Homo sapiens: one gene and its partners. The protein of the gene in region 2 interacts with the protein of the main gene of each other region in a biochemical or structural test. Each region holds a gene or a part of one and is shown on either strand. Other genes may lie near its edges.

Region 1 (7,776 bases), about 93 Mb from region 2:
AACTATTGGGTACCAGGTTTAATACCTGGGTGATGAAATAATCTGTACAACAAACCCCTGTGAAATGAGTTTATCTATATAACAAACCCTCATATGTACCCCTGAACCTAAAATAAAAGTTAAAAAAAAACCCAAAAAACAAAAAAAGGCATTATGCTAACCGAAATAAACCAGTCACAAAGAGACAAATAGTGCATGATTCCACTTATATGAGGTACCCCCAGTAGTCAAATTCAAAGATAGAAAGTAGAATGGTGGTTGCCTGGGGCGGAGTAGGGAGAAATGGGGAGTTAGCATCTTACTGGTACAGAGTTTCAGTCTGGGAAGATGAAAAAAAGTTCTGGAGATTGTTATCAGTAATGGTTGTACAATAATGTGAATATATTTAATGCCACTTAAGAATTATTACAATGGTAAATTCTATGTTATATATATATATATTACCACCATAAAGAGTAAATATGGTACAGCACAGGTTCTGCTGAGTTATTTTGTTGTTGTTAGGATTCCCTTCTACCCCATCACCTAGCTCTATCAGAGCAATGTTGACATCTGGCTACTCAAAATGATGCTCTCGTTTCGTATGACGGACTCATTTGACAAAAATTATATTAAATGCCAATGTCTGAATGGGTGTTTTTTTTTTTTCCTGGGTAACTTCAACACTGATCAATCAAGACCATTTCTAGATAGCCTGCCCTTACCCTAACATGAAGTGAACCATCTCTTCAGTCAAGTGACTTTTAGCAGGGTGCATAGTCATTGTGTATGAGTAACAGGAAGAAAAGGGTGAGTTATTATCCTAAATTTGCAGATAAGCCCAGAGAGAAAAATAGAACACATAAGCCCTCCCATGAACTTGCCAGATTTAGCAAGTAAAAATACAGGACTCCCTGTTGTTTATTTGAAATTCAAATTTAACTGGGCACTCTGCGTTTTATCTGGCAACACTGAAGTATTGGAGGTGAGGAGAAAAATAACCCAGGGTGTTCTGGGGTAACTGAGGTCTTAACAGGAAGCCTAGACAGGAAAAAGTAGAAAAGGCCATTAAAAAGATACTGTTAAAAAAAAATTGTATTGCTTAATCCATCCAGATCAGGAGCCCCTCCCCACACTGGGTTTCTATGATCCAAGGCTTTATTTTGAGACAGAGCATTGCTCTGTCACCCAGGCTGGAGTGCAGTGGCATGATCTCAGCTCACTGCAACATCTGCCTCCCAGGTTCAAGGGGTTCTCCTGCCTCAGCCTCCTGAGTTGCTGGGACTTCAGCCTCCTGAGTTGCTGGGACTACATGTGCACACCACCATGCCCGGTAATTTTTGTATTTTTAGTAGAGATGGGGTTTCACCATGTTGGCCAGGCTGATCTTGAACTTCTGACCTCTAGTGATCCGCCCACCTGGGCCTCCCAAAGTGCCGGGATTACAGGCTGAGCCACTGTGCCTGGCCTGATCCAAGACTTTATAAAGACATGTAAGAGGGTGGGAGACAGAAAGCGGAAAAGGATACATCAAAACTAGCAATGGATGAATGAGAACATGTCCAGCCTCCAGTTAAGGCAACTGTGGCTTCAAAAAGGAATCTTAAATACCAGCACAGAAATCAGAGGGATCCTAACCTGGCTCAAAACAGAAGAGAAACAGTGGCTGGCCATACAGCAGGACGGGCATAACTAACAGAATACCAGGTATACTGTTTGGATCTGCTCTTCCTTCCATTAAGCCATCCACCACTGCTTAATATCTAAGGAGCCGGCTAAGAAAATCCAGTCACTACTTTTATTTGCTAATACTTTGAGCCCCAGTTACAATAATGCCACTACTAATTAGGTAACTACTTTCTACCTTATCAACTCCTACAGCTTTCCAGCCATTGTTTCATCCCTCAGCGATACCACCTGCTTCCGCGTGGAACCCAAACCCCCAGGAAACTAAATCTGCTCAGGTCACCCACCTAGGAATAAATAAAAACAGGTTTCAGGCCCTTTGTCCTTTGTAAATTCCGCCTTTTTTTTTTTTTTAAGGCCTGTGTTCTTTATCACGGACACTGTTCACATAGTGGTAATCCTTGCCTGACTCAGATCTACTTGTTCCTGCGTTTCATTCCTCCGCTGCTCAATTACTTGTTCAAAACGCAAAGGACAACTGGTAGTGAAGACCCTCCACCAGCAACACTACCATGTGCCAGGCACCGTGCTGGGGACCGGGGATACAAAGATGAGTAGTGTACCGTCCTTGCCCCCAGGACAGTTCCCCGTGTCCGCAGGGCCGGCCTGGAGGGCCACAGCCAACTGTGGGCAACAGGATCACCGTGCCCTTCGCGGCAAGTGAGTGCAGTAGTAGGGGACGGTTACTGCCAAGCCAAAGGTTTTCTCCAGGTAAAACTGGATGACAGAGAGACAGAGACTGAAGCAACGCCGGCGCCGGGCGGATAATAAAGGGAGGCAGGGGCTAAAAGGGTGGAGGGAGCAGAGGACCCGGCCGGGAACTGGCAGTAGGGAGGCCCCCGCTGCAGTCGCCGGCCTGGGTGCCGGGCGGCCACGCTTCCCCAAAGCCGTCACAGGGACTTGGGGTACCAAGGTGACTACTGGGCGCGAGTCGTTTTGTGGGGGGAGGGTGTCCCCAAGGGGGCAGTTTGAGGAGACGGTTGGGGATGCATCTGGGGTGGCGCCCAAAGGGACGGTGGGTGCTGGGTGTTTGAAGGTCCGGTGGACGCAGAGCTGAAGGGTCAGGAGAAGGCCAAGGGTCAGAAGGGCTGGGGACGAGGTCTGCCCAGGGGGTCGGGGCGGACGCAGAGGGCGGGTGCAGCCGAGGGGGAAGGGCTGAAGGGAAGGGCAGGCGCTGAAGGCACATAGGTGGGAAGACAGGCCCTCCCCTAAGGGAGACCTTGGAACGCGGGGCAGTGGGTCTGTGGGACCCTGCCCGCCTCCGGAGAGGCGTTCCTACCTCGTTTCTCGCCTCAGCCTCGTCCTTCCGCGCCGGCGGCGGCGGCGGCGGCGGCGTGTCTCGCCCTCCAGGGGTCGCGTTGCAGGCTAGAGGCGCCGGCGGCCCCTCCCTCCGGGCGGGTTGGAAAGGCCGGCCCCTGTCGGCGTGGCGCGATGGTCCGATCTGGGTTGCCCTCAGGCCGCCCCTCCGGGCGGCGCGTTGGTTCGGTCCGCCCGGCCTAAGGTGCTCGCCCCCTCCCCGGCTCCCGCAGCGATGGGCGCAGCCGAGTCACGCGCAGAGCTTTCCCGCTAAGGGAGCGGAGAGGCTTCCGCCGTGGCCCAATCTTCTGCGGCCCGCGCCCGCCCCCGCGGGGTGGTGCCTGGCGACGCGCGGCTCCCGGGTGCTGGAACCCAGGGAAACCTTCCGCGGGCCTCCAGGGCCGGTGGGTGTGAGTCCCAGCTTCGCCTGAGGCGGCGGTTCTCAACGCTGGCTTCCCAGTAGAACCTAGTGTGGAAACTAACCAAACAACAGAAGGAGGGCTGACCTCACACTGGACCGACTCAGAACCACTGGGGTGGAGTGGGGTGGGGTGAGGTGGGGTTGGCCTCCAGTGCATAGCCAGGGTTCGGAACCCCTGATGAAACGTAGAACCCATGCGCCCCCTGCCCTTCAGGGCCGGATGTGTGGGGGACATGGAAGATGCCTGTGTGTGACTCCTGCTGTTTACAGCCAGAGGGGGATGGGGCAGGCAGTCCTGCAAATGTTATGGGAAACCCACTGTATTAGTCCGTTCTGACACTGCTATGAAGAAATACTATGAAGGAAAGAGGTCTGACTCACAGTTCCGCATTGTTGGCGAGGCCTCAGGAAGCTTATAATCATGGCAAAAGGCAAAGAAGTAGCCATCCTTTTCGCAGGGTGGCAGGACAGAGTGAGTGCAGGCAAGGGAAATGCCAGACGCTTATAAAATCATCAGATCTTGTGGGACTCACTCACTGTCACGAGAAGGGCGCAGGGGAAACCAGCCCCATCATCCAATTACCTCCACCTGTTCCCGCCCTTGACACAGGGGGATTATGGGAATTACAATTCAAGATGAGATTTTGGGTGGGGACACAGCCAAACTGTTACAGGTAGTTAGGCATGAGCGGGGCAGGAGAGGGTTCTCCCCTGCTACCCACTAGGGATGTTGGGTGATGGTTCTGAGGCAGGAGAATAGGGACTGGAGGCAGGGAACCTAAGACTGGTTCATGCCAACTTCCTGGAACTAAATTGAAAGGAAAACCCTAACTTTCCACACCTAAGTAACAAACCCCCCACCCAACTTTTCTGCCCAGCAGATGGGAAATTGGCTATCTGCAACCAATTAGACTGACTGCAGCCGAGTCTAACTTTGCATAGAAGTATAACTTTGTAACTTCACCCTAGCCTCTGATTGGTTGCTTCTTGCAACCAATCAGATGTTTGCACAGGTGTGCGACCTTTGTAACTTCACTTCAGCCTCTGCTTGGCTGCTTTCTGCAACCAATCAGACTGATTGCAGGCTACGAATTCATTTACATGAGGTGAGCATGAAGTGGCGGGTAACTTCTAGGGGGTATTTGGACCCAAGAAGATTCTGTTTCCTGGCCCTTGAGCCGCTGCTCCGGCTGCTCCCACACTGTGGAGTGTGCTTTCGTTTTCAATACATCCCTGCTTTCCTTCTTTTGTTCCTTCATTCTTTCTTTGCTTTGCTGGGCGTTTTGTCCAATTCTTTGTTCAAAACGCCAAGAACCTGGACAACTTGCAGTCAGACCCTCTACCAGTGACAGTTCCATAATTACCTCATTGCTTCTTTAAAAAGGATAATTCGGCTGGGCCAGGGAGAGGCCATTTCCTGATGGTCCACACATGTTAACATCAAAATGCTAATTGAATGCAGGCCTCAGGGAGAAGCAACTTTCTGGGCATGCGTGTTAAGAGACAAAAATGGTGACGTATGATCTCCTGGGGGCACCCTCCACCGGAAAACGGGAAGGAAAGCACTGCGCATTCGGGAAGCCCACTCTAAGGGAAGAATCATGGGAAAGAGGCCAGCCTGTAAAAGTCCTAGGATCTTGGTTAGGCACTTGACCTTCTCTCTTTAACCTTCACGTGCCCGCTTGGGTTTCTTCCAAGCGCACCTTCCTTTCTTTCCTGTTCTAAGGCCTTTTTAAATAAACTTCCATTCCTACTCTGGAACTTGCCTTGGTCTCTTTTTCTGCTTTCTGCCCCACAGTCGAATTCTTTCTTCTGATGAAGCAAGGACTAAAGTTGCTACAGACCCATAAGGATAGGCTGCAGGTAACTTGGGGTAACTCAGACCTCTTCCACCACTAACAAAACCATATCACCCATTGAGAAGACTCTTAGGCTAGACGCGGTGGCTCACGCCTGTAATCCCAGCACTTTGGGAGGCTGAGGCGGGCGGATCACCTGAGGTCAGGAGTTTGAGACCACTAGCATGGTAAAACCCCGTCTCTACTCAAAATACAAAAATCAGCCGGGTGTGGTGGCGCATGCCTGTAATCCCAGCTACTCGGGAGGCTGAGGAAGGAGAATCACTTGAACCTGGGAGGCGGAGGTTGCAGTGAGCTGAGATTGCGCCATTGCACTCCAGCCTGGGCAACAGAGCAAGACTCTGTCTCAAAAAAAAAAATAGAAGACTCTGTTCTAGGTTCCATACTCACTGAAAGAGTTAGAGACTGGGGTCACAGTCAAGGAAGCAGATAAATGTCAGGATATGTAGCTTGTCTTCAGGCTTCACAGAAGTGGTGTGAGCTGAATTTTGAAGAATGAGTGGGAGGTAAAGAGAGAATTGGCATGTGCAAAAGAACTGAGGGGCAAAATGACCAATGTGATTGAGAAGTGTGGGAGGCAACGGAGACAGCTGAGGAGAGCTGGTCAGGGTTTGGTGATGAAACGCCTATGACTACTAAGGAGTTGGGAGAGATACTGAAGGGCTTTATTGCAGAGGCAGGAATGACAAGATCAAATATGAATGTTAGAAATAAAGTTCTAAGGGCTTAAATAAGGGTGACATGGAGAGAGCTAGCATTGCCAGTGGGGAACCAATGAGGAATTGCATGTTTGCACAGTGTGATCCCCCAGTTAAATAGTCTGGGTTGGGGAATTAAGCCAAACCAGGCCAATTAGAATTACTTCTCTAAGAATTTGGAATTGGGAGACAAAGAGCTACATCTCTGCTCAGACTTAAATTGGACTTAAGGGTAATTTGGGAGCTATGCAGTAGTCATCTTCTACTTGCCCATTTGGCCTGAGCAGCATTGAAAACCAGTTTGCTGAGAAAGAAGATCAATCAGTTGCACACAGAGAAGCAAGTCTAGACACAAAAAGACTGCTCCCTAGGTTCTTGGGACCTTCCAGCAGCTGGTTCCACTTCTTTCTGAGGCCCAGCAGGATTCCTTCCCCAGGATCATGATGCATCCTTCTATCCATTCATAGGAATCTCATTTTTGGCTTCAGCGAGTGTGGGTTACTTCCTGTTGTTTGTGTTAAAGAATAACTTTCAAAAAGGTAAAATAATGAGCCTTATGCAAGTATTTTTATTTTTTATTTTTTGAGACAGGTTCTCTGTTACCCAGGCTGGAGTGCAGTGGTGCGATCATGGCTCACTGCAGCCTCGACTTCCGGGCTTCAGCGATCCTCCCACCTCAGCCTCCAGAGTAGCTGGGACTAAAGATATTTTTTGCATTTTTGGTAGAGACAGGGTTTTGCCATGTTACCCAGGCTGGTCTTGAACTCCTGAGCTCAAGCAATCCACCCGCCTCCACCTCTTAAAGTGCTGGGATTACAGACATGAGCCACTGAGCCTGGCAGAGCCTTATACAAATATACAATGAACATATTTCAAATTTTTTATTTAACTAATGAGGGAACCAGTAAGATACTAAAACCAGTTCAAATGAAGATTTGACTTAGAAATGTCTTTTCTCTAATGGACAAAATTTATTTGCATCACCCAGAACAGGAATCGTTTGCACTGTTATGGGCAGAAAATCTTTTGTATTATTTATTGTCAGTATTCTGAAGTTAACTTCTAACTCCAACGAGTTAGAAAATAGCTTACTTGTAAAATAGGAACCTAGTCAAAGGAAATCAAAGGCTCTCACCGCTAATATAATCAAATAATTCCCAAAGATTCTTAACAGCACCCAACATTCCATTAAAAAGACACCCATTTCAAAGTATTTCTTAAGTTTTCCAGACACTTGCAAATCAAAGAATATACGAAAACACAGAGACATAAGAAAGCATGATGCTGGCCGGGTGCGGTGTCTCACACCTGTAATCCCAGCACTTTGGGAGGCCAAGGCAGGCACATCACCTCAGATCAGGAGTTCAAGATCAGCCTGGCCAACATGGTGAAACCCCGTCTCTACTAAAAATACAAAAATTAGTTGGGCATGCTGGCAGGTGCCTGTAATCCCAGCTACTCAGGAGGTTGAGGCAGGAGAATCGCTTGAACCCGGGAGGTGGAGGTTGCAGTGAGCTCAGATTGCACCATTGCACTCCAGCCTGGGTAACAAGAGCGTAACTCCATCTCAAAAACAAACAAACAAAGAGGCTGGGCACGGTGGGTCATGCCTGTAATCCCAGAACTTTGGGAGGCAAAGGTGGGTGGATCACCTGAGGTCAGGAGTTCGAAACCAGCCTGACCAACATGGTGAAAAGCCCACCTCTACTAAAAATACAAAATTAGCCAGGCATGGTGGCACATGCCTGTAATCCCAGCTACTTGCCTCTCTGAGGCAGGAGAACTGCTTGAACCTGGGAGGTGGAGGTTGCAGTGAGCCGAGATCACACCATTGCAC
Region 2 (7,520 bases):
CTGTGCCATCCTTCCAAATGGCCACCTGCTGCCTTGCCAGGGGCAGAAACAAATAGATGGAAAAGTCCCCTGAACGATGCAGTCACACAGAGTGGAGTCACCTGACCAATGCAGCTCTTAATATCCTGTTTGGACCCTTCTCCTTAGGCCCAGGATGTGGGCAATGAATCTAGTAGAACTACAAACCTCCACCTCCATTTTAAAAACCAGACTTCTGAGTAAGGGTTCACTTGAACAAAGGGGGCTCCAGCTAAAAAACAAGTTTGAAAGACACTGATCATATCCAATGTCACCTCACAGAGGAGGAAACTGAGGCCCAGGGGAAGAAGTGGTTTTTCTGTGGTCACGCAGCAAGCTGGTGGCAAAGATGAACTCAAAAGTTAGATCTTCCCCTAATCCTAGCACCTGGGACTCTCCTCACCACACCCTGGGGCCCTTTCAGTGACTCCTAAAGGGATAGCCTGATGGCAAGTAGCTGTTCTCATTGGCCTGGCTTCCCTTTGAGACTGGAGATGAGGAAAATGAAACAGCAACTACCATTTCCTGGGTGTCCTGGGTGTTTAGGACAGCAGGCCCTGTACTAGGGATTAACATAAAAACAACAATAACAAATCTCATTTAAACTTCACAAGTGTAAGTAAAACAATACTTTATAGTTGTGAAAAGAGAGGCCCAAAAAGCTCAAGCAATTTGCCCTAAATCACATCCCTAGCAGATGGACAGGTAGGATACAAACCCAGAACTCTTAATCAGTACCCAACAGTTCTTCCACAATCATAACAATTACCCTCTACTGCCCCTTGGGCCCCCTGTCCCCAGGAGCCTGGCCATCCAAGACTCACATCCTCAGGTGAGTGGCAACCACCAGAAGTGGTTGTCTCAGGGTTACTGCCATTTTTTATTTTCTTCTTCTTTTTCGCTCCTGTAGGAACACCAGGGCTATTCCTCTGCTGATATTCTCTCAACTGTGGAAAAGAAGAGCAATAATATTCATGAGATCTACAAGCCCCCACAGTTACATCCTACTTTACAATTTTTCCAAAATACTCTTATATACCATCTGATTTAATGCCACTAACAACTCCACAAGTTCTTGTCACAATCACTTAGTGACTGAGAGGGATTGATACCATGGCTTAAAAAAGGCAAGAATTGAACTTAAACTCAGTCTTCTGACTCCAAGCTCTGGGGTTTTGCCACAAATCAGCAGCTGCCAGGGGCCAAAACCAGAGGCAGAGGTACTTTTCCACCTCTCATCCCAGAAACGGGATGAGAACACTTAGGGATTGGGTCCTAAGATCAAAAGCTGGTTTCACGCACTAATTACGGTTCCGAGGGGGACTGCGACATCACTACATTCCACTCCACCAAGGAGAATTCAAATATGAGGTGGAGAAGTCAAGCCTGGAGTCCCAGCTACCTGGGAGGCTAAGGCAGGAGGATTACTTAAGGCCAGGAGTTCAAGGTCAGACTGGGCAACACAGTGACACCCCCTCTCTAAAAATAAATATGTATCTTAAAATGTGGGCCGGAACATTAAGTCGGCAGGAACTGTACACTGTGTGGTTTAGAGTCATACATCCTCACACGTTTGGTAATGTTAAGAAATGCACCAATGCCTCTCAAACTTTTACATCAATGTATCCACATGGCAGAAGGCAGCCTTTCTGTTGAACCTGGGAATTTAACAGAAAGAGGACAACCCAAGCCTCATTTCAGAGAAAAGTCTGGTATACTCTTAGAAATTTATGTGACTGTCATCCCTAAGTACATTAATGTTTTTTCTCTCTCAAGAGAATAAAGGGAGACTGATGCTTCAGAAAGATGCCCCGTATTTATCCTGTGGCACTCCAAGTACCCCAGGTTGAGATGATATGAGGAAGATTCAAGCTGTCAAGTTCAGTTTCCCAAGACCTGTTCCACAGAAGATAAGCAGATCTCATTCCAGAGACCACTGAAGGGCACTCTGGTCCCAGAACCATGGAGAATTCGAATATGAGGTGGAGAAGTCAGAAAAAAATGTTAAAGTCTCTCTGGAGAGTAGAAGCCTGGGGGAAAACCAAACCAATCCCGTTCTCACATTGCCACCCAGAGATACTGCCAATGTTTTCAGTTCACGGGTGAAGTGTAGGCTTTTCACACTGTCAATGTCTATGTTAAGGGTGTAAGGCAGCCTGAAACCTCTCCCTCCTAGGTCCCATAGTCCCCAATCCCCTTCCAGCTGGAAATTTATGCTGTGACCAGAGGAACCAGAAGCGGGATGAGAACACTTAGGGGACTGGGTCCTAAGATCAAAGACTGGTCTCGCGCAACTAATTACGGTTCCGAGGGGGATTGTGACGTCACTACATTCCACTCCTAGGGGGAACATCAGCGCGACGTCCAAGTCGCCGCTCCGCGATGGGGGAGGGGACCGCAGGGCCAGGACCCAGGTCCTTGGAGACCCGAGACCAAAGAACCCCGGGAGGTCCGGTTTGGGGCGGCAGGAGGTGAGGGTCGAGTCTGGAGCGGGGGGCCCCGGGAGTCACGGGCCCAAAGTCACTGGCGAGGGCAGGGGCTGAATTGCTGGGGTCCTAGGTCCTTGGAGACGCCAGCCCAAAGAGCCCAGGGAGGTCGGACTTCGGGGGGCAGGAGGTGAGGGCCGAGTCTGGAGCGGGGAGCCCCGGGAGCACCAGCCCAAAGTCACCCGGGGGCGACTGGCGAGGGCGGGGGCTGGGCGGCTGAGGGGGCGGGGCTGGCTGACAAGACTTTGGTGGAGGGAGCCCGGACGCGCCGTGGGGAGCCCAGCCCGGTGTGCCTCAGGAGTGGCAGAGACTCTGGCCATGGTCCTGCCATCGGAGTGGGGCTGGGGCTGGGTCGGGGGGCCGCGACCCGGTGCACTTTACCTTTTTCTTCGCTGCGGCCAATTTGCTCTGTCGGGTTTCTTCCGACATCGCGGGGCGGGGAGGGAGGCGGGGTTGGGGCCACATCAGCGCGATCCCGGCAACCACTGCGGAAGTCAGTCAGCCACCGCGCAGCTGTGCGACGGAGCCAGAGGAGGCGTAACCAGGGCGATACTGGAGCGCAGAATGGGGGCGTGGCCTCAAAGATCAAAGCCCATTGGTCAATGAGAAATATGAAGCGGAAGGGGGCGTGGCTATGCAGCGGCGTGGCCAGAGGGACCTGTGGCGTCACAACAAAAGCTGCGCACGCAACCGCTGTCCCCGCCCACCTCGGGAGAGGGGCGGGGCCGGCTTTCCTTGGGTGCGCGCGCAGCTTTCTGTGCGCCAGTTCACACTCCGGGTCAGAGTTCCTGGCCCGGTGCACCTGAGAGGTCGCTCTCCGACTCCCGCGCTGGACCCTCTTGCGCCATTGAACCCCCTGATCCGGGGGCCTCGGACCCCAGGGCTCAGGAGGTGGGCGAGGAACGGACTCCACAGTTTCTTTCCTGACTCCTCACAGCCCTGCCCCAGACTCTCCCTTCCCAGAAATCACCTCCAAAGACTCCCATCCAGTGCTCCAGACAACCCCCGTCTCAGAACGCCCCCTTCCTAGAGGGTCTCTACCCTGATCCTGAGAGCGTGTCTGCCCCCTTTCCAGATGGATCCAGTCCCTGGCGCTCCTACTTCCCAACTGCTCCTCCTCCCGCATCCCCACAGTACCCCGTCCTCACAGCGGGCTGTGGGTCCAATCAGACTTTCCCCTCGGATTCCTCTCTAGGACTGAACCAAGACTTACCCGAAGTTGCCGCGGGGCCTTCCGATCCCCTGTGAGTATTTCTTCCCCCACACCCCCTTTCCCATCCTCGACCTTCCCTTGTGCGCTCCCGGCCCCACTCCCCATCCCAACAGCAGCCAATCCCCGCTTGGCCCTCTTCCATATCTTCTCCCAGTCGACTGAGAACCGCCAGGTCATTCCCGAATCCCTCCCCTTCCTTTCCTCATGCCCGCCAGTCTTCAAAGAAGTGTTATCCTGTCCTGTCCTAGGCTAACTCCTCTCCCTCCCCATCCTGTCTCCTGGCTCCTCAGATGCCTTTCACTCCAGTCCAGCACCAGCCATCTCTCCTCCTCGCTCTTTTCACCCCTCACCCAGCCCTGCCTTTAAACAAACCCATAGCTCCCCAGTCAGGAAAATGCTTGGCGTTCACCCTGGCCACTCCTTTCGTTGCTAATAGTCTCTCCTCTTCGCTGGCAAGCCACCCCCAAAACGCAGCCTACTCCTTCTCTCATCCCCCAGATGGAGTTGCCACTACAACTACCACCACTCTTAAGGTAGATCGTGAGGGCCGGGTGCAGTGGCTCACACCTGTAATCCCAGCACTTTGGGAGGCTGAGGCGGGCAGATCATTTGAGGTCAGGAGTTCAAGACCAGCCTGCCCAACATGATGAAACCCTGTCTCTACTAAAAATACAAAAAAATCAGCCGAGCGTGGTGGTGCAGGCCTGTAATCCCAACTACTCAGGAGGCTGAGGCAGGAGAATTGCTTGAACCCGGAAGGTGGAGGTTGCAGTAAGCCGAGATTGCACCACTGCACTCCAGCCTGGACAACAGAGCTAGACAAGTCTCAAAAACAAAAAAGAAGTTAGATCGGGAAAGACTTGGTATTTGTTCATTGATTTAGCAACTGCTGCAATGCAGGTGTATGCCAGATAGCCCCCTGCCCTCCAGGAGCCACAGGCAAAAAAATAATTCCAGGACAAGTATGCACATGGTTCTGAGATGGGGAGCCCAGGCTTGGGCTTGCAAAGAGGGCTCTCCAGAGATGGCAGGGTCAGAGGCAGGGCCTGAAGGGCAACTCACAGTGAGCTCAGATGACGATGACGGGGTGGCAGCCATAGTTTGCCAAAAGCACTGGGCTGATTGAGCTTCTCTCTGCAAGTGGGTTGGTATCCACTGTCTTTGACCATGCGGTAACTCACTGCAGATCATGCCTTTCTCATTCATGCTAATTCATTCCTTCTCTTTTTTTTTTTTTTTTTTTTTTGAGACACAGTCGCACTCTGTCGCCCGGGCTGGAGTGCAATGGTGCGATCTGGGCTCACTGTAACCTCTGCCTCCCAGGCCCAACCCATCCTCTTGCCTCAGCGTCCCAAATAGCTGGAACCACAGTTGTGTGCCATGACGCCTGGCTAATTTTTTTGTATTTTCAGTAGAGACAAATTTTCGCCATGTTGCCCAGGCTGGTCTCAAACTCGTGAGCTCAAAGCAACCTGCCCGCCTCGGCCTCCCAAAGTGCTGGGATTACAGGCATGAGCCACCATGCCCAGCTTCCATTCCTTCCATTTTTAAAAACAACGCTCGACCCGGCACAGTGACTCACGCCTATAATCCCAGCACTTTGGGAGGCTAAGGTGAGTGGATCACCTGAGGTCAGGAGTTTGACCAGTCTGCCCAACATGGTGAAGCCCCATCTCTACTAAAAATACAAAAATTAGCTGAGCATAGTGGTACATGCCTGTAATCCCAGCTACTTGGGAGACTGAGGCAGGAGAATCGCTTGAACCCAGGGGGTGGAGGTTGCAGTGAGCCGAGATCACCCTGCACTCCAGCCTGGGCAACAGAGCGAAACTCCATCTCAAAAAAAAAAAAAAGGAGGCTCTATTGAGCATTGTCCCATCAGCTTACTTTACATGCATCATCTTTCCAGTTCCTTCCAGCAACCTTTGAGAAGACGCTTTACTGTCCCCATGTTGAGGTGAGGCCTGTGAGTTCCAGAGAGATGAATATAGCCAGGACGTGGCAGAGCTGGGGGCTTTAAACTGAGAAACTGAGTTGTTTTTGGTTTTTTTTGTTTTTTTTTATTTGAGACGGAATCTTGCTCTGTCGCCCAGGCTGGAATGCAATGACACGATCTTGGCTCACTGCAACCTCTGCCTCCCAGGTTCAAGTGATTCTCCAGCCTCAGCCTCCCTAGTAGCTGGGATTACAGGTGCCCGCCACCATGCCCGGCTAATTTTTATATTTTTAGTAGAGACGGTTTTGCCATGTTGGCCAGGCTGGTCTCAAACTCCTGACCTCAGTGATCCACCCGCCTCAGCCTCCCAAAGTGCTGGGATTACAGGCATGAGCCACCGTGCCTGGGCTTGAACTGAACTCTTAAGCGGTACCTTGGGCTTGCTCCTCTCTGGGCCTATTTGCAGGAGCACCCTCCTGACCTCTCCTGCCTCTTTTTCTGTGCCCGCTCGGCTGGCTCCTTTGCTTCCTGCCACTCCTGAGGTAAATGTGGGCATTTCTGTAGGATCCAGCCCTACGGGGCTTGGTGGGCGTTCTCCCCATGTGCGGAGACAAGAGATTGTAAGAAATAAAGACACAAGACAAAGAGATAAAGAGAAAACCGCTGGGCCCAGGGGACCACTACCACCAAGACGTGGAGACCGGTAGTGGCCCAGAATGGCTGGGCACGCTGATATTTACTGCATACAAAACAAGGGGGGCAGGGTAAGGAAGGTGAGTCGTCCAAGTGATTGATAAGATCAAGCAAGTCACATGATCGTGGGCCAGTGGGCCCTTCCCTTCTAGGTAGCCAAAGCAGAGAGGGAAGGCAGCATACGTCAGCATTTTCTTCTATGCACTTATCAGAAAGATCAAAGACTTTAAGACTTTCACTGTTTCTTCTACCACTATCTACTATGAACTTCAAAGAGAAACCAGGAGTATGGAAGGAACATAAAAGTGGACAAGGAGCGTGACCATTGAAGCACAGCCCCACAGGGAGGGGTTTAGGCCTCCGGATGACTGCGGGCCGGCCTGGATAATATCCAGCCTCCCACAGGAAGCTGGTGGAGCAGAGTGTTTCCTGACTCCTCCAAGGAAAGGAGACTCCCTTTCACGGTCTGCTAGGTAACGGGTGCCTTCCCAGACACTGGCATTACCGCTTGACCAAGGAGCCCTCAAGCGGCCCTTATGCAGGTGTGACAGAGGGCTCACCTCTTGCCTTCTAGGTCACTTCTCACAATGTTCCTTCAGCACCTGACCCTATACTTGCCGGTTATTCTTAGGTTATATTAGTAGTGCAACAAGGAGTAATATTAAAAGCTAATGATTAATAGTGTTTATACTAATGATTGATAATTGTCCATGATCATCTCTATATCTAATTTGTGTTGTGACTATTCTTATTCTATTTTCTTTATTATACTGAAACAGTTTGTGCCTTCAGTCTCTTGCCTCAGCACCTGGGTAATCCTTTGCCCACACATTTCCGGGTGGCTCTGCTCTCCTCTTGCCATTCTCTTTCTACACACCTGCTCCAAGTTCTGACTCCCACTCCCTCAGCCCACCCCAGTGCCCACAACCCTCCTATCTCTCTCCAGCCCTGACCTTTCTTGGGACACCCAGAGCTGCCTGCAGAATCTTTGCCTTCCCACTTGCCAAGTCTGAAATCACACTCAGCCTCCTAACCAGGACCACAAAACCAACTCCTCCAACTGCCCTTGCATCATCAGAGGAACCCCAAGCTCTTGAAGTGTGCTCTGCCTCTTCTCCTTTCTAATAGCACTACTCATGGTTGCATCTGTTCTTTTTAAAAAAAAAAAAAAAAA
Region 3 (7,029 bases), on a different chromosome or scaffold from region 2:
ATAATATGCTGACAGGATTTAATGTGCCTATGTTCCACGGCTTATGGAAAGCCTACATGTGGCTTGTGTATTAGCTAAATTTGTACTCCTTGTTTTGTTATTGTGATTAGATGTTGATCTTAAAAAGAAAACACAGGCCGGGTGTGGTGGCTCACGCCTGTAATCCCAGCACTTTGGGGGGGGCCAATGCGGGCAGATCACCTGAGGTCAGGAGTTTGAGACCAGCCTGGCCAACATGGCGAATCCTCGTCTCTACTAAAAGTACAAAAATTAGCTGAGCATGTTGGCAGGTGCCTGAAATCCCAGCTACTCAGGAGGCTGAGGCAGGAGAATCGCTTGAATCTGGGAGGTGGAGGCTGCAGTGAGCTGAGATCATGCCACTGCACTCCATCCAGCCTGGAACACAAAATTGAGACTCTCTCTCAAAAAAAAAAAGAAAAAGAAAGAAAGAAAACAAAAATATTTTCAATAAATTTTACTTTTATAGTACATGCATATGTATGCTTATCTTACATATTATCATTATTTGAAATAGTATTTTAAAAGCTTCATTTGTGGCTGGGTGCGGCAGCTCACACCTGTAATTCCAGCATTCCAGCACTTTGGGAGGCCAAGGCAGGTGGATCACGAGGTCAAGAGATGGAGACCATCCTGGCCAACGTGGTGAAACCCTGTCTGTACTAAAAATACAAAAATTAGCTGGGTGTGGTGGTGCACGCCTGTAGTCCCAGCTACTCAGTAGGTTGAGGCGGGAGAATTGCTTGAACCTGGGAGGCAGAGGTTGTGGTGAGCCGAGATCGCGCCACTGTACTCCAGTCTGGTGACAGAGCGAAACTCCATCTCAAAAAAACAAAACAAAACAAAAAAACCCAAAACAAAAAAAATTTTCATTTGTGCCATCTTAAATCATCAATATAGGAGTGAAAATGTTGTGAGATAAAATTACACATCATTAGCTTTCTTCATAAATCTAAGAATTTGAAAGATATATAAAATTTCCTAGAGTTCATTTCATATCATATGCAGTAAATAAAAGTTGCACCAAAAACAAACCTTTAACTCTTTGGTCTCTTGTAATAATGCTGACAGTCTTCCTTCTACATCAGTAGTTTTGGTGGCTATTATAGTCTCGGTCTCTCCTTGTACCTCAACTGATTTTGCCTGAAATTAGAAATTGGAAAAAAAGATGTCTCTTAAACATTACAATCAATATGAACTCCCAAAGGGTTATTTAATTTTTTTGCCATTTTGATATTTTACTTTCACTAACAGAAAATATAATTCCTTATGTATTTATGTGCAACAAAGTGCTCTCCACTGTCAGATGAGCTGTTCCCACATGGAAGAGCATCAAATCTCATAAGAGTACGAGGAAGGCTGGGCTAAGGTGCCTCAAGGTAGGTAAGCCCAGAAAAGTAATCAGCAAGGCAGCTCTAATGTAACTGTAACCCAGCATTTAATAAACACAGAATATTTTTCAAAGCCTTTCCTTCATAAATTTCCTATAAGTCCATACTACCACCCTAGATAGGTAGATAAATTGAGCCAAATATCATTATTAGTGAAATGCAAATCTTTTCTCAAGTGCTAGAGGAGACACTCCTGAATAACAGTTTTTCAGTCTTTCCTTGTCTTTTTTCTAAAATACTAGGAAGTCGGGTAGTGACACAACAAATATCTAAAAATGTGGAAGTAGCTTTGGAACTGTGTAATGAGTAGAGGCTGTAAGAGAGGTGCATGGTAGACAAAGCCTGCATTACCTTGATGAGACTGTTGCTAGAGATATGGACATTAAGTGATTCTGGTGAGAGCTCAGAAAGAAAAGAGCGGAGTTGGAAAGAAGCTTCATGGTCATAGTGAGAAGAAGAATGCTGGCAGAAATATGAATGTTAAAGGTGCTTTTGGTGAGGTCTCAGATGAAAACTAGGAACATGTTACTGGGAATCGGAGGAAAGGCAATCCTTGTTATAAAGTGGCAAATAACTTGGCCAAATAGTGTTGCAGTGTTTTGTGGACAGCAGAACTTGTAAATAATGAATTTGGATATTTTACTGAGGTTTCTAAGCAAAGTGTTGGAGTGCAGCCTGGTTTCTCCTTGTTGCTTAAAGTTAAATGTGAGAGAAGAGAGATAAATTGAAGAAGAAATTGCTAAGCAAAAAAGAATCAGAATTAGAAGATTTGGAAAATTCTCAGTCTACCTATATTGCAAAAGTATGAGAAGGAATGTTCTGGAGAAAACAACAACGGTTTCTGAATATTTTATGACAGCAGAAAAACTGCCAGCTTGGACTGAAGGGACAGAAATAGAATGTAATACCAGCAAAATAAACTATTAAGTAACTGAATAAACTAATCTGGTGAGACTGACTATAAAACGACTGTCACCATGAACATGAAGCCTATGTTACTAGAATACCGGCTAGTAAGTAATCTAAAGAGAAGGTGCTATCTGATGAATTTGTTTCTTTTTAATTGTGGCTAAGAAATAATACATCAACCTTGTCTTTATTACCTTCCAGAGAAAAAAGAGAAAATACTTACAAACGCTTCTGTTTTCTGTAACAGTTCCTGCTTTTCTGTCTGTAGTTTGGTGATCTCCACAGATTGTGAGTTTAACTGAGACTTTAAAGTTGCCAGTTCCTAAGAGACAAAAATAGTTGAGTCATAACATTAAATGGTATTAAATTCATCAAGGAAATATTTACAGGGAGACATTTAAAAAAATGATTTACAACCTCCTACTTTTAAAATCTAACTCTAAAGAACTATTCTTGAATTTTGGGTTCAAGATGGAAAATTCAACACATTCATTTACCTCTGCTCCCTCCTGAAATCCCATGCAAAAAAAAAAAATCATAAAAGACAGGAAGGGAGGGGAGAAGGAAGAAAGAAAGGAAGGATGGGAGGGAGAGAGGAAGAAACCTACAAAAACAAGAACAGTAAGAGAAGAGAGCAATATAATTGGGGAATTTTGAGAAAGCAAGTAACAGTGATAACTAAATCAGCACACCTGAGAAAGCTGAAAGCTAGGATGACCACTGAGAAAGTTAAGATAGTACCTGACTTACAATGAATGCATTAACTACCAGAAAGGTTAGGAACTGGTATCATTAGATACCACTGGAAGTACAGATAAAAATGAGGTTAAAAACTGCAGGCCTGGTTAAAAGACTATTTAAGAAATAGATCATCAGATCCCTGTCTCAATCTTAGGCATCAGGCAACCGTTCCTCCTTTCCTGGATGAAGACTTGAGGTTTATTATGTGGCTGGGCAAAACAGGACATCTTTAGACTAGGGACCACCAAACACAGATGAAAGCAGTAGTACTATAATGAAAACCAGGGTATTAATTGAAAGTTTTTATTAATGTTGAATTTCCAAACTTCTCACCTTCTCCTCCCCCAAAAAAAGTACAGGAAAAGAAAGGCAATTATAACAATGGCTCTCAGCAGGAGTGATTTCTCCCCATATCCCCCCATCCCCGAGGACATTTGGTAATGTCTGGAGACACTGAGTAAGTGGTGGGACAATGGCAAGTAAAAGGCTCTTTTCTTTTGGTTCTCTTTAAAATTTCTATCATGTACATTTGTGGCTTTTCTAATTTATTTTGTTTAGTTATTAAAATGAGTTACAGTTTTCTATATATAGTACTTTACTATATATTATAAAAAACAAAACTGTCACTTAAAAAATACATATATTTTAACAATCTAAAGTTTATAAAAGTAAATAAACTGGAGAAAGTAAAAAAACTAAAAGGCAATTCTCTTTTTATAAAAATATCTAATTAAAGTTTCACTGGGAAAGATAATTAAATGGCTTATTTTTACTTAGAATTTACAAACTAAGGCTATATATTAGTAACTTAATTCCCTTTAATTTTAATACAGTTCTAGTATAGGTACACTTAATAAAACCAAAAGAGCATATTAATCTTCCCACACAAATAAAACATTGTGAACAAATATTGGAGACCTGAAAATCCTCAAATGATAAGTGATTCTTTTTTTAAAAAGAGGTCAGATATTTAGAATCTACTCTGAGGTACATGGACATTATCAAAATAAGACAAAATTTCTCTATGTTCAGTCATTTCTCTTTCAAAGCAGCCATGTCAGTGGACTAGGGCCAGTTGCTTAGTGGAGAGAGAAGGAAGACAGTTAGTCCTAGGTTAGTGAGGATGGTCATTTTTTAGTATTGCTTGGATTAAAAAAAAAAAAGTATGCATTTCTTTTATAATAAGAAAGAAAGGAGGGAAAGAAGAAAAGAGAGAGAAGAAAAGAGAGGAGGAAAGAAAAACAACCCCAGAACCTGTTTAGGGATAATATACTCTAGAGTTTTCTTCCAATTGCTACATTATTTAATTGTAAGTATACAGAGTTCATTTCTCTCTTTTGATTCTTTTCTTGAACAATACATTTAAATTTTTTCATTGGATAAAGGTAAATCTGTATGATCTAGTTTAACAGGAATTTATAAATACTATAAGCAAGTAGAAAAAAGTTTAACTTGCTTTTCTAGATGTTATAAATTACCACAGAAAAAGTTTATTTTGCTTTTTAGCTGGAGTCATTTAATTGAGATATAGGTAAGTTTACCTTTCTTCTCTTTTCCAATTCTAAAATTCTATATTTTCTAGACAAAACAGTTTAAAAACCCCATACATTTAGTCAAGCAATTATCATAGTATATTAAAATTAGGCATAAGATTTTACATTTTCATATTTGCAAGTTATAAATTTAAATTTTTCCTTGTTAGTTCACTGATAATCTATAAATAACATGGGTGAGATGCTGAGATTTTTTAAAAGGAATACCTCTGAAAAATAAAAACACAATAAAAAGCAAAGTACTATTACCATATAAATAGAAACAGCTTCTGGATTTTCAAATGGCTGTCTTAACTTAAATTTTACTTACATCTGCTAATATAGTTCTAGATTTGTGAAACTATAGGGCTGTTATTCTATTATAATTAAAACATGACAAAGTAGAATTGGATCAAAGTGGAAAATTACCTGTTTTAATTCTGCAACTTGTTCAGAATCTCTAGCTGAAACTATTGCTGAAGACTGTTCATTTGTGCCAGATGTTTGGGAAGATTTCTGCAAATAGCACAAAAATAAACTATAAAATATATTCAGTCTAAAGAGATGAGAAAAAAAAACAGAACTGTACACATATAAACTATATCATATGTGCTTACCAAAAAATTCACACCAACCTTTTAATTTTTATGCCCAAGATAAAATTCCAACACAGCACATATTGTCTACAACTTTTTCATGGCTAAAAATCCATTTGTAGGCTGGGTGCGGTGGCTCATGCCTGTAATCCTTGGGAGGCCAAGGCCAGTGGATTGCTTGAGCTCAGGAATGCAAGATCAGCTTGGGCAACACGGTGAAACCCTATCTCTACTAAAATACAAAAAATTAGCCGGACGTGGCAGCGTGCACCTATAATCCCAGCTACTCGGGAGGCTGAGGCAGGAGAACTGCTAGAACCTGGGAGGTGGAGGTTGCAGTGAGCCGAGATTGTGCCACTGCGCTCCAGACTGGGCTAACAGAGCGAGACTCTGTCTCTAAAGAAAAAAAAATAAAATTTTTATTTTACCGAGCAATTTATTAAATCTAAGCATTTACCTGCGTTCATATGGAGAAAGAGCATAAAAGCAAACATTTATTAAATAATTTCCATCTATTAGAAGAGTAAATTAAATCTCACAACAATGAACTAGACATTACCACTACCATTTTATAGATCAGGAAACAAGTTTAAAGAGGTTAACTAAATTGCTTAAATTCAATGAGCCAGGAAGCATTGAAGTTTAAACAGTTTGACTCTAAAGCTCATCCTGTAAAATCTTTTTTTTTTTTTTTTTAGATGGAAAGTCTCCCTCTGTCGCACAGGCAATGAGGTGAAGTGGGGTGATCTCGGCTCACTGCAACCTCTACCTCCTGGGTTTAAGAGATTCTCCTGCCTCAGCCTCCTGCGTAGCTGGGACTACAGGTGCCTGCCACCATGCCCGGCTAATTTTTGTATTTTTAGTAGAGACAGGGTTTCGCCATATTGGCCAGGCTAGTCTTGAACTCCTGACCTCAGGTGATCCGCCCACCTCAGCCTCCCAAAGTGCTAGGATTACAGGCGTAAGCCACTGTGCCTGGCCCATCCTGTAAAATCTTAACATATGATATTCTGGCTTAAGAGATCCAAGGAAAAAAAAAAAAGGCAGGATAATGAGAACCACTCTTGAACTCTTATTTTAACTTCTTAAACATTTACTTTACCATATTTTCAATCATAGAGTCCTTTTCAGTCAGCTGGCTTTGTAAAAGTTCCTGATTACGTTTTAATTCTTCTATCTCTTCTCGCAATCTACCAATTTCTTCTGGCTGAATGCCATTCATCTGAGCCCCCTCACTGTAAGAACCTTGATGCTGATTGTCTTTTCCTGTTAGACAGACATAACATTTTAAAAGCCAACGGGAAACTTCAGTTTTTCATTTTTGAAGTAGAAGATTCAAATATGTAATTTTCTTCATTCAATTACTTTGGCAGCACTTTTGCAATCACATTTCATCTTTGCAGAATGGTATACTGATAAAAATAGTGAACTGATAGTATTTTCCAGATTTCTGGGAGAAAAAACAGCACAGCCTTGACTAAACTGCATGGTCTGGTGATCTATGATTAAGAATTACAGTAATTTTAATTCCAATTCTGTCAACTGAATATGAGAAAATAAAATCCTTTTAAAAAATCTTCACAAGCACCGTAGGATAATACTATTTAAAAGCAGTGGAGCTCTTGCCATTTTCCAGGCACAACTTAAATTTTTCATTTATTATATCATTTAGTTCTCAAATGTTATTACTATCTTCATTTTGCAGAAGAGGAAACTGAAAGATTACAGCGGTCATTCTTAATCAGCTATACATTAGAATCACCTGGTGGGCTTATACTAGTTACTGATCCCTGGACCTAATCCCAGATTTATTAAATCAGAAACACTATTGTGGTATCAGCA
Region 4 (7,029 bases), on a different chromosome or scaffold from region 2:
TAATCAGCAAAGCGAACAATACATCGTTGTTGTTATAGGTTTCAATATCCCCTTCTCAGTTATCGACAGAACTGGACAAAAAACTAGTAAGGATATATAAGGTGTTTTTTTGTTTATTGAGACAGTCTTGTTCTGTTGCTTAGGCTGGAATGCAGTGGCGCAATCATGCCTCACTGCAGCCTTGAACTCCTGGGCTCAAGCAATCCTCTGCCTCAGTCTCCTGAGTAGCTGGAACTACAGGTGCATGCCACCATGCTCAGCTAATTTTCAAAAAAATTTTTCTACTTTTGTAGAGACAGGGTTTCACTATGTTGACCAGGATGGTTTTGAACTCCTGGCCTCAAGTGATCCTCCCACATCCACCTCCTGAAGTGCTGGGATTATGGGCATGAGCCGCTGTGCCCAGCCAGGCTATATAAGGTTTGAGAATGCTGTCAAACATGTTAACTAGTATACCTGATAACTGTAAAAAAAATTCTTTTTCCAGTACATATAAGAACATTCAATAAGATAGACCATATGATAGGCCATAAAACTTGTCTCAATAAATTACAAATGACTGAAATATTACAGAGTGTATTCTCTGACTATAACAGAATTAAATTAGAAGCCAGTAACAATTAAGATTATCTAGAAATGTCCCTAAACATTGGGAAATTAACAACATATTTCCATATCTTCATTGCTGTGGTCATTATACCTGTAAATACATTTACCAAAACTCATCTAATAGTCAATTTAAGATGTATACATTTCACTGTACATAAATGTTTATCTCAATTTTATATATATTATTATTTTTTTTTTTCTTGAGACAGAGTCTCGCTCTGTCACCCAGGCTGGAGTGCAGTGGTGTGATTTTGGCTCACTGCAATCTCCGCCTCCTGGGTTCAAGTGATTCTCTTGCCTCAGACTCCCGAGTAGCTGGGATTACAGGTGTATGAGACCACATCCAGCTAATTTTTTAATTTTTTAGTAGAACTCCTGACCTCAAGTGATCCGCCTGCCTCAGCCTCCGAAAGTGCTGGGATTATAGGCATGAGCAACCATGCCTGGCCTAATTAAAAAAAATTGGAAAAAAAAAATTCAACATGGGTTCAGGTGAATGCAAAGAAACGGAAGATGAACATGTATCTATGTCTAAGGTGTAGTCAAAACAGCAAATGAAGGGCAATTCTCCAAGTAACCTGGCTTCTCTAGGGCTTGTTCAGTCTAGCTAAGAAAATTCTTAAGACAGAACCAAGGACATGAAATAAATCTTATTTTTATGGCAAAACAATGCAGCTCTAAGAATCTGCTAAAAAAAAATAAAGTATATTATCATTCATTCAATGAACATTTATGGAGTTTGTTGTTTAGTGGGGAGGCAGAATAAACTGACAATTAAAAAATTTCTGGCCAGATACAGTGGCTCACGCCTGTAATCTCAGCACTTTGAAAGGCTGAGGTGGGCGTATCACCTAAGGCCAGGAGTTTCAGACCAGCCTGGCCAACGTGGCAAAACCCTGTCTCTACAAAAAATATAAAAATTAGCTAGACACAGTGGCATGCACTTATAATCCCAGCTAGGCAGGAGGCTGAGGCATGAGAATCACTTGAACCAGGGAGGCGGAGGTTGCAGTGAGCCAAGATTGTGCCACTCACTCCAGCCTGGGCAACAGAGCAAGACTGTCTAAAAAAAACCCAAAACAAAAACAAAAACAATCTAAATTAAAAGTAAGAAGGGCTGGGCGCCGTGGCTCACGCCTGTATACCCAGCACTTTGGGAGGCCGAGATGGATGGATCTTGAGGTCAGGATCATATAAAAATACAAAAATTGGCTGGGCGTGGTGGCATGCGCCTGTAGTCCCAGCTATTTGGGAGGCTGAGGCAGGAGAACTGCTTGAACCCGGGAGGCAAGGTTGCAGTGAGCCGAGGTGGTGCCACTGCACTCCAGCCTGGGCAACAGAGGGAGACTCCATCTCAAAAAAAAAAAAAAAATTTCTAACATCAGATTATGGTAATAGTTGTACAATGCTATAAATTTACTAAAAATCGACCAGGCAGAGGGGCTCATACCTATAATCTCGAAATCTTCGAGGCCAAGTTGGGAGGATCACCTGAGTCTAGGAGTTCAAGACTAGCCTGGGCAACATGGCAAGAACCTATTCTCTGGAAAAAAATTAAAAATTAGCTGGGCATGGTGGTGTGTGCCTGTAGTCCCAGCTATTCTGGAGGCTGAGGTGGGAGAATCACTTGAGCCTGAGAGGTCAAGGCTGCAATGAGCTGTGATCATGCCACTGCACTCCAGCCTGGGCAACAGAGCAAGACCACAACTCAAAAAAATAAAAATAAGAAGGGCCAGGCATGGTGGCTCACACCTGTAATTCCAGCAATTTGGGAGACCGAGGCAGGCAGATCACGAGGTCAGGAGATCGAGACCATCCTGACCAACATAGTGAAACTCCGTCTCTACTAAAAATACAAAAAAATTAGCTGGGCATGGTGGCGCTCGACTGTAGTCCCAGCTACTCGGGAGGCTGCGGCAGGAGAATCACTTCAACCCAGGAGGCAGAGGTTGCAGTGAGCTGAGATCGTGCCACTGCACTCCAGCCTGGCGACAGAGTGAGACTCCATCTCAAAAAAAATAAATAAATAAAAAATAAAAATAGTCTGGGTGCAGTGGCTCACACCTGTAATCCCAGCACTTTGGGAGGCCGAGGTGGGCAGATCACGAGGTCAGGAGATCGAGACCATCCTGGTGAACACGGTGAAACCCCCTATCTACTAAAAATACAAAAAATTAGCCAGGCGTGGTGGTGGGCGCCTGTAGTCCCAGCTGCTCGGGAGGCTGAGGCAGGAGAATGGCGTGAACCTGGGAGGCGGAGCTTGCAGTGAGCCGAGATCACGCCACTGCACTCCAGCCTCGATGACAGAGCGAGACTCCATCTCGAAAATAAATAATAAATAAATAAATAACAAAAATAATAAAAATAAAATTGGAAGCAATCAAACATTATGAAGATACTAGACATCAGTGGTGCTTACTGTATGCTATCTGATAATTCTAGAGTTTCTAAACCTATGAGACTACTTAGGGTCAGGGCTAGGGGACTACAGCAATGCCTTCTTTAGCTATTAACCAGGAAAAGGACAGCCTGTACCAGGATATATAAGCAACTAGCTCACACCCTTATCAAAATGTCTCTAAAAGAGAAAGCCAGCTGGGTGTGGTGGCTCACACCTGTAATTCCAGCACTCTGGGAGACAGAGGCAGGCAGATCACTTAAGGCCAGGAGTTTGAGTCAAGCCTGGCCAACAAGGTGAAACCCTGTCTTTACTAAAAGTACAAAAATTAGCCGGGAATGGTGCTGCACACCTGTAATCCCAGCTACTGGGGAGTGTGAGGCATGACAATCACTTGAACCCTGGAGGCAGAGGTTGCAGTGAGCCGAGATTGCACCACTGCACTCAGCCTGGCTGACACAGCAAGACCCTGTCTCAAATAAAAAAATAAATAAATATAAGAGAAAATATATATAAGAAATAGAAAAGAGAAAGCCAGATGAAGCTACCCACTGCTTTGTCTTAGAATAGTGGCATATGGCTAATATAATGGTATTACACAAATTATTTAACTGTCTGTGGCTCCTATGGGTTCAGTTACGTATCACTTACTACGTTCCATACACATTGCTAGGTTCTGGGAATATATAATTCCGATGAGAGAGAGAGAGAGAGAGAGAGAGAGAGAGAGAGATTTTCAATATACTATGGTAAGTAATGATACTGTTTTTGCTGAGATCAGGTCGGTGAAAACACATAAGAGAATCAGGTGTCACAGACAGGAGGTAGGATGGGAAATGTCAGAGAAAATGTTGCTGAGGAGCTGACATCTAAACTGAAACTTATAAGGAGTACAATTAGGAAAGGGAAAAAAAATGAACATTCTAAGCAAAGGAAACAAAAGCATGAGCACAGGTATCAAACCATGACCATGAAACAATATGTTAATGAGGAAAGAATCAGTGATCATTCAATATTACTTACATTATGATTCAAGGCATGGAGGGAAATAAATTAAAAAATATAAAAACAATATAAAGACTTCTTCCTAAAGCTTTAACTATTTAAATGATGTTACTGTTACCCTCTGTTGATCACCCTCAATTAAGAAAATTATTGGTCTAGGCCGGGCGTGGTGGCTCACACCTGTAATCCCAGCACTTTGGGAGGCTGAGGCAGGCAGATCACGAGGTCAGGAGATTGAGACCATCCTGGCTAACACAGTGAAACCCCGTCTCTACTAAAAATACAAGACATTAGCCAGGCGTGATGCAGGCACCTGTAGTCCCAGCTACTCGGGAGGCTGAGGTAGGAGAATGGCGTGAACCTGGGAGGTGAAGCTTGCAGTGAGCCGAGATCGCGCCACTGCACTCCAGCCTGGGCGACAGAGCAAGACTCCATCTCAAAAAAAAAAAAAAATTATTGGTCCATAAATCTTATAAATCTGGGACCACTACCCTACATGATATACAGCCTTGAAGAGTTAAGCATGTGAGTCTCTGGCTGACCTATCTTGTAGAAAATGGCTTGATAATGTGACATCTCCCTATATTTTCCTGCCCTCCCCCAAAAAGACCTGTTGTAAACACTGTTCAAACACCAGCATTTTATTAAGGATAAAGTAACCAGAATTTACTTTTACAACAAGAAGTGGAACACCATTACTGACAGTAAATACTTGCTTTCATTTATCTCAGTCTTGGCATCAAACTCTGAAATAAAATTTACCGGCCGGGCATGGTGGCTCACACCTGTCCCAGCACTTTGGGAGGCCAAGGCAGGCGGATCACCTGAGGTCAGGAGTTTGAGACCAGCCTGACCAACATGAAAAAAACCCCATCTCTACTAAAAATACAAAATTAGCTGGGCATGGTGGCGCATGCCAGTAATCCCAGCTACCCGAGAGGCTGAGGCAGGAGAGCTGCTTGAACCCAGGAGGTGGAGGTTGCAGTGAGCCGAGATCACGCCATTGCATTCAAGCCTCGGCAACAAGAGCGAAACTCCATCTCAAAAAAGAAAAAAAAAAAAAAAAAGAAAAGAAAATTTACCTTTAAAGCAATGTAGTAGGAATGTAGTGACAATATGGTAGATTTACCACTTTGCAGTAGTTCTATCCACGATCTGAAGTTTGCAAGTCTTTTCTCTTTTTCCAAAAACTATGCCACATTTATATTTTTCACTGTTTGAAAATATACTGCTAGTTTGTAAGGCCTGCTCTTGCCAGGTGGAAGGAAACCTATACACCAGAGAATAGAATACTCACACAATTATTTCATATTTTTTCAATTTGGTAACCTCAACTCAACTTACCTGCTTTACATTGTATCCAGCTTTTGCACTAGTTTCAATAAACATAACATTCAGCTCTTTGGCTTTCCTCTCTCCCTCCTCAATTGACACTTGCCTGTAAAGAAACAAACAAACTTCTTACTTTTGAGACATGAGGCAGTATTATAAAGATTATAAAGAAAGCTCTGAAAATAACTTTCCTTGATATAAGGACTGGTTATACAGGTCACATTAGTTTAAAAATTCATTAATCTGCCACACTCTTGAAATTTGTGTGTTTCTGTGTGTGTATACTTAACATTTTTTTAAAGACTTTTTTTTGTTACTGATTTGCTTTCACTTGACTGGGCTCATCCTGTAATTTTTTTACTTTTACAAACTTAATAGCTTGAGGATGCTCGAGCCCAGGAATGTTGAGGCTGCAGCAGGCCATTATTAGGCCACCACATCACTGCACTCCAGTCTGGGCAACAGAACCTGTCTCAAAAAAAGAAAAAGCTAAAAACAAAACAAAACAAAAAACGCTTAATAGCTTGCCTCTTTCCCTTAATATCAGACCACAGGCTTTTAGCCTTAAAATTCAAATCTTTGTGTAAAACAATTTTTATGGCTAAACAATTTCTGTCAATTTGCTCCTATAATTTATATAACCATTCCCAAACTATTAGAATGCAAGTTGCTTTCCAATTTTACACTACTATGAAAATTGTTGCCCTAAATATCTGTGCTTAATATTTTGTGCACTGCAAATCATTTCCTTAGGTTAGATTTTGTGGTTTTCTTTTTTTTGAGACAGTTTTGCTCTTGTCACCCAGGCTGGAGTGCAATGGCGCGATCTCAGCTCACTGCAACCTCCAACACCTGGGTTCAAGCGATTCTCCTGCCTCAGCCTCCTGAGCAGCTGGGATTATAGGCGCCCACCACCACACCTGAATAATTTTTGTATTTTTAGTAGAGACAGAGTTTCACCATGTTGGCCAGGCTGGTCTCAAACTCCTGACCTCAGGTGATCCACCCATCTCAGCCTACCAAAGTGCTGGGATTAGAGGCGTGAGCCACCGTGCCCAGCCGATTTTGTGGATTTCTGTAAGTGAAGTAAGTGAGTCAAAGACATGTATGGTAAAGCCTCTAGATACAAAATATTAATACTTTAATATTACCTTTACAGGGTATTTTGTGATGCATTACAATTAGCACTATGTCTCAAATTGTGAGATCTCAAGTGCAAGATTATGTCATTTATATTGGTATTCCTAATGCTTAAGCTGGCAGATAAGTATTCCATAAATATACAAATGTTCTAATTAGCTAGATTTAAACTATCAGCTGACAAACCCTGCTTCCTACAACACAGAAAATGGGCAATGGAAGAGAATTTCCACAAGCTTCCATTTACTTGCAAGTGTGCCCTTATATCCTACCTCTAGTCCTATTACTATGAAAGAGTTGTCCTTATTCTCAAAACTTACATCTATGTATTAGATCCCACTCCCTTCTTGCCTACAAGAAATTATTATTCTAGAATTCTCCACTCCCTAAAAACAAGAACATTCTCTTACATAACACTCCAACTGTTAAGATTTTACATTTGCTTGTGTTATCTTCTCATTCTCTCTGTGTATATAAATTTTCTGAAACACTTTTAAAAAACTGTTTGAGAGTAAACCGCCAATCTGCAGACCTTTAGCCCTAAA

The links.
Region 1: the proteins of GOLGA2 (region 2) and RUSC2 form a complex in vitro, tested with the Homo sapiens proteins (one study listed by BioGRID).
Region 3: the proteins of GOLGA2 (region 2) and USO1 form a complex in vitro, tested with the Homo sapiens proteins (2 studies listed by BioGRID).
Region 4: the proteins of GOLGA2 (region 2) and RAB6A form a complex in vitro, tested with the Homo sapiens proteins (one study listed by BioGRID).

Annotation. Positions count from the first base shown.
Region 1 is NC_000009.12:35,485,341-35,493,116, reverse strand, and holds the start of RUSC2 (AP-4 complex accessory subunit RUSC2), read right to left. Parts: upstream 3,007-7,776; 5' UTR 2,945-3,006; intron 1,999-2,944; exon of another isoform or gene 1,861-1,998; intron 1,687-1,860; exon of another isoform or gene 1,490-1,686; intron 1-1,489. UniProt on the Homo sapiens protein: Associates with the adapter-like complex 4 (AP-4) and may therefore play a role in vesicular trafficking of proteins at the trans-Golgi network.
Region 2 is NC_000009.12:128,273,008-128,280,527, forward strand, and holds the start of GOLGA2 (golgin subfamily A member 2), read right to left. Parts: upstream 3,001-7,520; 5' UTR 2,970-3,000; coding exon 2,886-2,969; intron 2,490-2,885; coding exon of another isoform or gene 2,401-2,489; exon of another isoform or gene 2,349-2,400; intron 966-2,348; coding exon 843-965; intron 1-842. Other genes in the region: DNA repair protein SWI5 homolog, read left to right, coding at 2,401-2,489, 3,580-3,748. UniProt on the Homo sapiens protein: Peripheral membrane component of the cis-Golgi stack that acts as a membrane skeleton that maintains the structure of the Golgi apparatus, and as a vesicle thether that facilitates vesicle fusion to the Golgi membrane.
Region 3 is NC_000004.12:75,804,564-75,811,592, reverse strand, and holds part of USO1 (general vesicular transport factor p115), read right to left. Parts: intron 6,454-7,029; coding exon 6,290-6,453; intron 5,108-6,289; coding exon 5,021-5,107; intron 2,641-5,020; coding exon 2,542-2,640; intron 1,162-2,541; coding exon 1,054-1,161; intron 1-1,053. UniProt on the Homo sapiens protein: General vesicular transport factor required for intercisternal transport in the Golgi stack; it is required for transcytotic fusion and/or subsequent binding of the vesicles to the target membrane.
Region 4 is NC_000011.10:73,702,064-73,709,092, forward strand, and holds part of RAB6A (ras-related protein Rab-6A), read right to left. Parts: intron 5,451-7,029; coding exon 5,357-5,450; intron 1-5,356. UniProt on the Homo sapiens protein: The small GTPases Rab are key regulators of intracellular membrane trafficking, from the formation of transport vesicles to their fusion with membranes.